Regions from separate parts of the Homo sapiens genome. Here region 2 is linked to region 1. The links come from fine-mapping of genetic effects on gene expression. Tissue or cell type: testis. Region 1 holds a variant in brackets; the other region holds the start of a gene. All regions are shown on one strand. Distances are from middle to middle.

The links. PIP is the estimated chance that this variant, and not a neighbour inherited with it, causes the effect.
Region 2: it holds the start of ADARB2, and the variant in region 1 is fine-mapped to the expression of ADARB2 in testis (GTEx, PIP 0.99).

The regions. Positions count from the first base shown.
Region 1 is chr10:1,195,316-1,200,657 of GRCh38, reverse strand. ADARB2 (adenosine deaminase RNA specific B2 (inactive)) reads left to right here. Exons shown (of 10, transcript NM_018702.4): 8 at 511-692. Among named protein-coding and RNA genes, the nearest start is that of LINC00200, 38 kb to the right of the region's middle. The variant A/C (reference allele first, on the strand shown) is at 2,578.
Region 2 is chr10:1,734,319-1,739,660 of GRCh38, reverse strand. It overlaps ADARB2 (adenosine deaminase RNA specific B2 (inactive)), which reads left to right and starts at 2,136. Exons shown (of 10, transcript NM_018702.4): 1 at 2,136-2,610. The coding sequence starts at 2,511. RefSeq lists a silencer at 2,187-2,246 and an enhancer at 2,208-2,804.

The DNA.
Region 1 (5,342 bases):
ATCTGGGCTTCTGAAACCAAAATCATGCCCAGACCAAAACAAGGTCATTTGTTAATGTAATTTCAACACAATAGGTCATTTTGACTGCTAAGGACAAAGGGAGTACTAAGTATTTTTCCCTAAACTAAAATAAACAAATTCCATTTATAGTATTTCCCAGCTAATATAAAGAAAAATTCAGATTCACTTTTGGGACAGAGTATCTTTTTAAAAAAATCTAATTCTAAGTCCCACAGAGAACATAACAGTTTCCACTCTAACGACTCATTTTCAGAAAAGAGAGCAGCATTTGTTAGCACACATGGGCCTGTGGAGCCCAGTCCCAGGCAACAGTGTCCCCAGAGCCCCAGTGATGGCTGGGTTGGGTCTGGGGCACTCCCAGGGAGCTCCCCAAGGTCCGCACGATGGGAAGACTGACAGGTCCTCAGGACCAGGCCGCAGACGGACAGAGAGGACCAGGCTCCCTGGGCTCCTGGGTGGGGCTCCGCTGACTGCTGGCTCTCCCCACAGGTGGAACGTCCTGGGGCTGCAGGGCGCGCTCCTGTCCCACTTCGTGGAGCCCGTGTACCTGCAGAGCATCGTGGTGGGCAGCCTGCACCACACGGGCCACCTCGCACGCGTCATGAGCCACCGCATGGAGGGTGTCGGCCAGCTGCCCGCCTCCTACCGGCACAACCGGCCTCTCCTCAGCGGTAAGAACCCCCTTCCCGGGGGCCCTCCACCTCCTTCCCACCACCAGGCCAGACACAGGTGTGCCCGGCGGTGCCATCCCTCGCAGACTTCATCCATGTTGGCTAGTGGCAATTTAGGATTTAATGGGCAAAGTCCTACGATTTTAAAAAGAAAAAATGAAAGGTTTCAGCATCTCTCTGCATATAGCAATAGGCCAGGTCCTGATGTGAATTCGTGATTGTGTGATGGTGCTGTTTTCACAGCGGTGTCTGAAGGAGTTCTGAAAACAGAATCACTAGTGTTGGGCTCACCCAAGAGGCCCCACCTGCCCACCTGGCCGCCCACCTGCCCACCTGCCCACCTGGCCGCCCACAGGAGGCGATGCTGAGGAAGAGCCAGGTGGGCGAGGAGGGGCGGGGGGCGCCAAGGTCACGTGGCCAGAGCGGGTCTTCGGAACCCAGGGCCCCGGGCCCTCCACACCCTCCAGAGGCTGCCAGGTTACTCCGCGAGTACTGGGCCGGCTTCGCACCAGGATTCCCCACAGCCCAGATGTCCTCAGAGACCCGAGCCTCCCCAAGCCTCTACTTCCCCACGTTACCTGGGGCCTGCCCGGGCTGCCTGGCACACAGCCAGCTGCAAGGATGAAGAGTCCCTTGGCAGCTGCGAGGTGCCCTAGAAAGCCCCGGGAGTGGTCTTGGGAGGGTTTTGTGAAGGACACACTGACAGGAGGCGACTCCTGGCCTTTCACAGGAACAGCGGGAAGCGGGGGGGTGGGTTTCCGAATCACCGCCAGCCTCATGCTGGGCCTGCAGAACACCAGGTCTTTGAGTCAGCCTCCCTTGCTGGAGTGGGAGAGCTCTCTGAAGGGCCTGCCTGTGGCAGAATCAGGCAGATATGTGGGGGAAACGGAGAAAACCTCTGCCCCAGAAAGGAGAGGATTTTCACCTGTTTGCCAAGTGGCTCCTGCACTCTTTTTCTGCGCGTTTTCCTTAGGCCATCCCCGCTCTTTGTCCAGCACCTACTGAAGGGCTTATTTAAGCTTGCGCAGCACAAGGAAATATGGAGTACAAATGCAACCACGCCCTCCCCAAGCCACCGTCAACGGAGCAGGTTTTGCCCTCCCTGGGCACTGGCATGTCACCCTCAGCAGCCAGTCTCCCAGTGCTGATTTTCAATCATGTGTCCATCTGGGAACATGTCAACATAAATAAAAACAGGAATGTCCAATCCTAAGTGTGAACACAGTGAATTTTAGAAAACGCAATTAGAGAAATTCAGATCCACCTGACATCATTGAGTGGCACAGATAATAGCCAAGCCCGAGAGACACCTGTCTGCTTCCGATCCCAGGTGGCACCTGCCACACCACGGCCGGTGCAGCCTGACTAAATATTTCAGCCTCCATTTACATGCTTATTGGGAATCTGGTTTTCATTATTTTGCAGATGCAAATGAGCCTAAATCTTGGTACCTTGCCTGCATGCAACCCCTAAGCTGTCCCTGCATTGTTCCTGATGGACATTTAAAAACCAATCATGCAAATTTTGAAAAGAAATCATCAGAATTTCTTGCACCAAAAGAAAGAGAGAGAGAGATCTTGCACAGGGATAATAATAAAAAGCACCCTCAAATAAGCAAATGAAGTTTGCTTGAAGCTTCCCTCAAGGTCAGTTTGCAGAACTGCCTTAGAAGATGAAGATTATGTATTAGCAGAATGAGGCCCAGCAATTTAGATATGGCTAAATCAGCTCTGAGTTAAAAAGAAGCAACCAAGCTGAAAAAGATACCCTTACTCACACAGTCACGGGATGCATAGTAATGTTCTTGAAGGATATACTTGAAAAATTCTGCACTTTCCAGTCTAAATCTATGGCAAAACTTCAGGACCAGAAGCCCATTTCGAGG[A/C]TGTCTCAAACGCTGAATCCTTCAGCAAAAGTTGCATTATTTCCTGAGTACAGATAGCCTAAAGGAGTTTGCCCTTGGTCCTTCTCAGTGAATTCAGTAAGATGAACAAAATGATGGGGATAGTAATTAATAAAACTCTATGCTTTGAATAATCATCCTTTTAGGAAAAAGTGAGATGAAATAGCCACTTTGACAGGCTGTTCCACCAAGCTGAGGATATATGCTTCTCTGAGCTTTCAACATCAAGGCTAAATTTTTATTTCTCTTCATCAAGAAAAAAAGAAATCTGGGTAGGATAAATTCGCTGTTTGTGTTAACAGCATGTTAAACAGATATGTTGTCAATGATTAATTTCTTAGTCCACACTGAAGATAAAACTGTGATTATTTTTACAGCCCACCTCAAGGTCTTGGCAACGAACATGAAATCTGAGAGATGGACCCAGAGAATTGATTGTTAGAACCATGACTTGTTTAAGACTCTTGGTTTATGTTCACGTGATGAACATTGCAGTGCTGGTGATAAAATAGAGGAGAGCACGGGCTGTCTTCCTCCACAGCACACAATTTCCTGGAGTGTGAAAAGGGCCAGCTGGGGCGTCTGAAGCCCTTTCAGGCATCCATGTTTCACAGCAAAACCATTTGTCAGAAAAGAAGTTAGATACGTACTGAAATGTGAAGTCACATATGTACTGAAATGTGTACCAATACTAATAGCTTCTGAAATTTCCCAATGCCACCTATTTTTGGCATTCAAAGTCTCTCTCTGTTGCCATTTATGTCCATTTTTTTTATGAGTCCAGATTTTCAAAATGTTGTCACACTAAGTTGAGGAAAATTCTATGGAGTATCAGACCTCTTTAATTCAGGAGAAATTTCTGAAATTAATGATAATTAAGAGTATTTTGCAAAATAACATAGTGAAGCAGTAGCAAATATTTTATCCAGATGGTAAGTGATTTGCAATATTATTTTTACATTAAACAGAGGTCTATTTTGGAGTAACCTACAAAATTTTTACAAATGTTTAGTAATAAACACATAAGCATTACAGAAATATTTTAGCAGCCTGCTGTTTCTTACAGTCACTAGAGCTAGAAATTTATCTTCCCATGCCCTTGCAGGAATTTTTGGTGGAAAAAATTATAAATCTTGCTAGAACAATCTAAAAGGCAGTCTTAGCTAAGCGTGGTGGCTCATGCCTGTAATCCGAGCACTTTGGAAGGCTGAGGTGGGAGGATCACTTGAGGCCAGGAGTTTGAGACCAGCCTGGCCAACATAGCCAGACCCCATGTCTACAGAAAGAAAAAAGAAAGAAAGAAAAGAAATCCTAATATCTTTTCATGAAAACTAAAAAAGTTAAATTCAACAAAGAACTACTTAATAAGACATTTTTATAGATTAGCACAGAACTTTCTAGGCAAATTAGATGGCACATAGCTTATGATAAATATAAAATTATTGAAAAACTTTGTTTTCATTTTCTGGAGAATCCTTTTAAAAATATTTTGTATAATAATTAATTTTCATTTAATTTCCACCATGATCTTAAGGAATTGTTTCCCAGTAGAATTTAAGCAACGAACTTAATTACATTGCTCCTGAGAATTGTATCATTAACTCCAGGAAAATACTTCCATTGTCAATACATTAAATGTATCCAACATCGAGAAATTGATCAGCATAATCCAGGCATTTGCTTAATCATTCAGCAAATGTGTATTGATGATTTACAAAGTGCCGGGCACAATCCTACATTGAGAATAGAGCAGTGAACAAAATAGTCAAAAATCCATACCTCAGGGTGATTGCATTCCAGTAGGGGAGACGGACAAACAAAATATGAGTGCTTTGTCAAAAAAAAAAAAAAAAAAAGGCAAAAGAAGGATTAAAAAGTGACCCTCAGCCCTAATAAAAGGATCAGGAGCACTCTCAGTGTGGCGGTGACACTGCGCAGAGTCCTAGAGGAATGAGGGAATGGAGCTGGGAGAAGGGCTCCCACAGGGTTTTGGGAAACAGGCAGGGTTGGGCTGAGAGTGTGAGGTAAGCGGACGGGAGAGAGAGGCACTCTGGAAAGGCTGCAGCGGGCTTCCTCTCCCTTCTCACCAAGGGAAGATTCCAGCTGGTTTCAGGCTGCTGTTTGGTTCCCCAGACCTGAAACAATCACATGGGCCTCGATTCAGTGGGGTTACGAAGGTGGTCACAGGGCTAACGGGAAAAGCACAGACTAGGACGGTGCCATAAAAGCCAACTGGCCCCCACCATCATCTTAGGATGCCAGACTCTCCCCACTGTGCTTTGCTGGCTCGGGGGCTAGAAAGCCTCACCCTGCTGCAGTGAGCCATACCTCCCTTCAGAAGCCTCGGGCTAAGAGCACCATCCCTCTTCTTCTGAACCAGGATCAGCCTCTCCATGGATTCAGAAGCCTCAGGCTGATAGCACCATCCCAATTCTTCTGAACCAGGATCAGCCTCTCCATGGACATCCCTCATTGCTCACAGCCACACCCCTGGAGTCAAAACTCTGAGCTTTCTCTGGCATGAAAACCTTTCAACGTCGTCTCTGCCTAGATGTGCTCTCCCACCCAGGCCTGCAAAACTCTGCCATTCTGAGAGAGAAATGTTTGCCAGTCATAAAACTTAACAAGGGACTAAAGACCCTTATCTTAAAAAAAAAAAAAACAAAAAAAAAACTGTGTACAGCATTGACAGATACTGAATGATGGTTCCCTGAAGGTTCTGTAAAGCTGGAGAATCCCACTCCCCA
Region 2 (5,342 bases), 540 kb before region 1:
ACAGCAAGTATCTGTGAAAACAGCATTTTCATAAATTATACAAAAAAGAACCAATTGGAGGAACTTCAAGAAAAAGGTTTGCCAAAATTTCGATCGTAACTTTCAAATTAGGGTCTAAATGAAGTGTTCAAAGACAGTTTTCAGTTTTGTTTCCCCACTCCACCAACATCAGAAGAACATTTAACAGACACGTTACTTTCCGGCCACCATACCTGCCCTTGGAGTGAAACAAGGGTTCATGTATACGAGTCTCCCAGACAGCACGGTTGCTCCGTGTGATGATGGAGCTATTGGGGCCATTAATAAATGCTGACCACCTTGTGGGGGCTGTGTGTGTGTGTGAAGCTCTTCTGAAGCACCTTCCTTCGGTGACTCCACCCCCTGATGGGTTTTCTGCAGATACAGAAATAGGGCAACTCTGGATTAGTGCAGCACATTGTGTGAAGCTCAGAAGTTTCACAGGCAGAGTCCTAGAGCTGTGTTTCTCGATATAGTTTAAGCACTCAAATATCTCGGGTATTGCAGAGAGGAAGTGAGAGAGCTATGTGCCTTCTCAACCCTCGCTGGGAATTATCAGCAGAGCTGAGCTGTGCTGTCATGGGAACAGGGTTGTTGAAGCCAGCCCTGAAGAGGGATGTTGGTTTGATTGTGGTCCTCAGTCTGAGTTGGACTAGAAGGTTCAACATTCTAAAAGGAAAACGCAGAAGCCCTGTCTTTCTGAGGCTTGTCTGCAACATACGCTCATTCCTTCCAAATTATTTGCTGGAAAAAATTTAATAAATAATCATAGAGTAATTAACATGTTCCAGTTCCTGTCTATACTGGTTGATACTGATTCAACGAGTATGAATGAACTTATGAGGTGGGTGACGTTGTTATCCCCAGTTTACAGATGAGGAAACTGAGGCACGGTTTAACTTACCCGAGGTCATAGCAGTAGAGTTAAGATTTGAAATCAAATGTCTTACTCTCTCTCATCAATGAAAACTGAGCTACGATCTATCAGCTCAGCACATAACAACACAGGATCATCCTAATTATTTCCAATGTCCCCCAGAGTGATTCTTTTTTCTTATGATAAAAATTATCTGGAAATTTCTAGGCACATAAGCAGCTGAAAAGGTTGCATGTGAGGCAATGAATAGCAGAAATATTTGTGTGCCATTTTTATATCAACATGTTAATGTGTGCTAATGAATTTTAGAGTGGATTTTTTTAAAAACATGACTATTGTAATTAAAAGCTTATGTGATTTAAATACAAGATGCAATGATGATTACCAGATTCTATTCCTCTTTATATTTTACATAAGACTTCCAGGGTTCCATAAGTATAATCTTGAAACATAGGACATTCCTGGAAAAAAAAATTGCTTAAAACTATTTCAGTGTGCAATCCACCTCTTTGTAAATGTTACTTTCTTCCATCCAAATATTACATTTGGCAACAAAACTCTCCGCTGAGAGCTTTCTCTTCCTTTTGTGTCATTGTTCCCTAAATAAAGCAACACATGAAATTCCTGACGGCAAAAATCAGACTCAGATCCCAAAACCTCTGTCTTTATGCAAGATTTATCTTTTGCATTGGAAACGGCCAAGGAATATGAAGAGGGGAAAGAAGAGGCAAACAGACAAGCATGCAGGCTCTGAGGAATAAATGCCCCTCAGGACGCTGTCTCCTGGGGAATTGCAAACCTCAGTCCGTTTCTGAGGAAGTGCGGTCTCTGCATTTCTGAAAGAGGTATTTCCCCCCCTTGACACAAGGAGCATGGTAATGAATTGACTAGTTAAAAACTGTTGGTTGGAAAAACCCGTCCCTGTGTCTTTCTGAGCAGGGCGAGCTGAGCTGTCCGCGAGGCTGCGGCAGGAGGCCTCGTCCTCCCGGGCAGGGTCCCTCCTGGAGGCTCCCCCGGTCTCTCCCAGACGCACCCGCGCCGCGTCCTTGTTCCCCGGGAGCAGCCTCCCTCCAGCCGCCGGTCCTGGGAGCTTCACCGTCCAAACGGGAGCTGAGTTTGCAAGCGGCCAGGCGGCGGTGCGGCTGGTGCTGCTGCTGATGTCAGAGCCAGAAAGCAGTTGTGATTGGATCTAATTAGACGCTGCTGCAGCAAATAGACAAGCTCCCTGCGTGATTGGCTTCAAAGTGGCTGGTGCCAAACAACTAGCAGAGGCGCAAAAGTAGCCTCCCTGCGCTGGGAGCCCAGAGCAGGAGGCAGAGCCCGCGGGAAGCTCGGAGCACTCAGGACGCCGCGCGCCCTTCCCCGCCCTCCCTGACCAGGGAGCAGCTCGCTCCAGGCGCCCAGCCGAGGCCCCCAGCCCAGTGGGAGCAAGTCATAGAGAACAATTCGAGAGACAGAGAGACGGAGCGCGCTTTCCTGCTCAGTCCTGAAAAGTGAGCCGCTCCCGGGTTTGCAACCTCAAGCTTCGCAGCAGCGGCGGCGGCGGCTGCCGGGAAGGAGGCAGGTGCAGGTGCAGGAGGGAGGCGGCTCTGGGCTCCGCGCCTGGGTCTCGGCCATGGCCTCGGTCCTGGGGAGCGGCAGAGGGTCTGGAGGGCTGAGCAGTCAACTCAAATGCAAGTCCAAGAGGAGGAGGAGGCGGAGGTCCAAGCGGAAAGGTAAGGACCGCGTGGCGCGCCGGCCCCTGCCCCCCTTCACCCCCGGCTTCTCCACCCCGGCCTCTCATGGGGTCTCCGGGCTTGTCCGTTGTGAGCAGCTTCACTTTGGGGTGCTGGCGGGATGGCTGCTCCGTGCAGGGCGCTCGGGAGTTCAGATCCCGTGGAAATGTCTGGGGCCTCCTCTTGCCCAGAGGGGACAGTGAGCAGCCACGCTGCGACATGTTTGAGGGACCCGGACGAAGTGGGGCGAGGGCGGCGAGGAGCTCCCCGGGGACCCCGCGCGTCTCCGGGCCCCGCAGTCCCCAGTGGCCGGCCGGGCTGGCACTGCCTTCCACCCTCCGGAGGCCATCTCGTCTCCCAGTGCCAAAGGAATTACCCAAAAACGGGGGAACGAGCCCTCGCGCCAGCTACTCCCATCCAAACTGTCCCGGAGGAAGGGATAGGCGAAGCCCTGCGATCGCCTCTCCAAATTGGCTGGCAGTTTTTACTCAATGTGGTGCCCGTCGATTTGTAAACATTGGGTCGTAAAGAGAACACAGGGCTCGTCCTTGGAGAAATAAGCAGAAATGAATACAGGAAAACAGAAAGAAGCATCATATTTTGTTAGTGGTAGAAAAAAACCGCAAACCAGGAAAGCAGGAAAAGCAGCCGGCTGACAGCGGCCACTGACAAACTCAGCTGTGCCTTGTTACTGATATTCCTGGGGCTGGGCCGCGCTGAAGTTAGTCAATGCTACAGCAAGGGAGGGCTTTCACACTGGGGATTTTGCAAAATTAGCAATCGCTCCAATATGAGAGCAATGCCCCCAGTGCCATCGTAGCCTGTGTGCATGCCAGGAAGAATTAAAAGATTCTTCTCATGCCGACCCTTCTCTCCTAGAGGAACCTGTGTTATTGTCAGTTCCTAGTGAGCCTGCAGGAGAAAGTTCAGTTCTAATCATGATTTGAAATGTGCTGATTTTTTTTAAGTGAGGTAGAAGTATAAAGAACGGTTGGAAAAACACAGCTAGAATTGATCAGCTTTGCCAGTTGTTTGAAAGCAGGAGGCAACGTTAGGTGTGTTTGGGGTTGTCCATCTTTCCTGAAGAATTTTCATCTTTGCATTGGCCTAAGATAAGTTTCTACCAGACCGTTTCCTGTGTGCCCTCGAACCGTCACCAGGTCCTTTATTGCCTCTTCCAATAATAGAAATTATCCAGACAGTCAGCAGGCATAAATGTCAATAGCAAACAGTCATTCATTATGACCGAACGTCAGGACCACTGGGAGGGATTGGCCCCCACAACTTCCTCAAAAGGTTTTGGAGCCTTTGGTTTCAGAAGGGAGGTGATGTTGTGGTTCTCATTTACCTCTCAGCTGCTAAGTGTGCGCTTGCGATTCACTTTGTTGTTTGAAATTATCATTTTGAAACAGACCTGTTAGTGTCCTCCAAAGATAATGCCAACACAAAGTGGCATTGATATTGAGAAAGTCACCGGATTGAATAATGAATATGACTTTTAAAAGAGGAAAAAGGAAGCATCATCTTTACACTTGAAATGTTCACATTTCCCAATATTTTTTGATTAGTCTATTTAAATATTTAGAGTTGAAGAATGTGGAGTAATAGTTCGCAATAATGCATTTTATAAATATAAACAGGAGGAAAGTGTTGCCTTTCTCCAAATTCACTTGCCTTGCCAGGAAGCGTCAGTCATGCTAGCTTAGAAAGTATTCAATTTAGGGGGAAAAAGGAAATCTGGGGAAAGACTTCATTTGCTATAAACTTAACTTTAGCAATTCAAAATAAAACTCCTATAGCAAATATTTCCATACCTTGGTTATTTTGAATATGTCAAGTCCCTTAATTTTCATAGCCAAAAATTGAAGCGGGAAAGGGCATTCAGGTTTTGTACACTGATTTCTGTTACGAAGAGATTTCTGGCGTGCGGGAGAATTTCCCAGGGCACCTGCCGGCAGCTATCTTGATAGGAAAGTCAAATCAAACGGCTAAAGATTCAATTTTTGGGGAAACGTTAACCATGTAGATGTAACTGATCAAATTAAAAGGTAAAGTAACCAGCTAAGAGACACATTAAATAATTATTTGCATTTTCCTGGGAATTGATTACTTCATCTATGATACCTAGTTATTACAGATGCTGATATTTTTTATTTTATAAAAACAATGGTGAGTTTAAATTATGTTCTAATTGTCATGAATCTTAACAACCATAAATGAATAGAATAACCTCAATTTTAAGCTTATCTGATATTAAAACTCTATACTTGCCACAATTTAAAATCCACGTGTGTATGAGAGACTGTTAAGGAATTTAGTGTGGCTCTATTAGGTGCTAACTGAAGACACTGACAGAAGCACAAGGTAAGGGCTGTTCTTATGGGGGAATAAAGACAATTAAGATACATGCTGACCCTGTTGCCTGTCAGATGCGTATTTCTACCTAGTCTAAGGGACAAGAATCATTTTTGAAGATGCATGATAACTTTAATTTCCCAGTGTGGTGACATCTGGCTCCTTTTCTATGTGTGACTCTGAGAGTGACTTTGGCATGATATGCTTCTTATCAAAATGATCTGTGAGCTCTGAAATAAAGCATGCCGGGGCTACCACTGAAGGGTGGTCAGGACACAATACTTTCATTAAGTATAATCCATAGTCTTGGAAATGATATTTTTTTCTGTAGAAGTTATATTTTAGTTACTATGCCACAAAGGCAGCTGTATGTATCT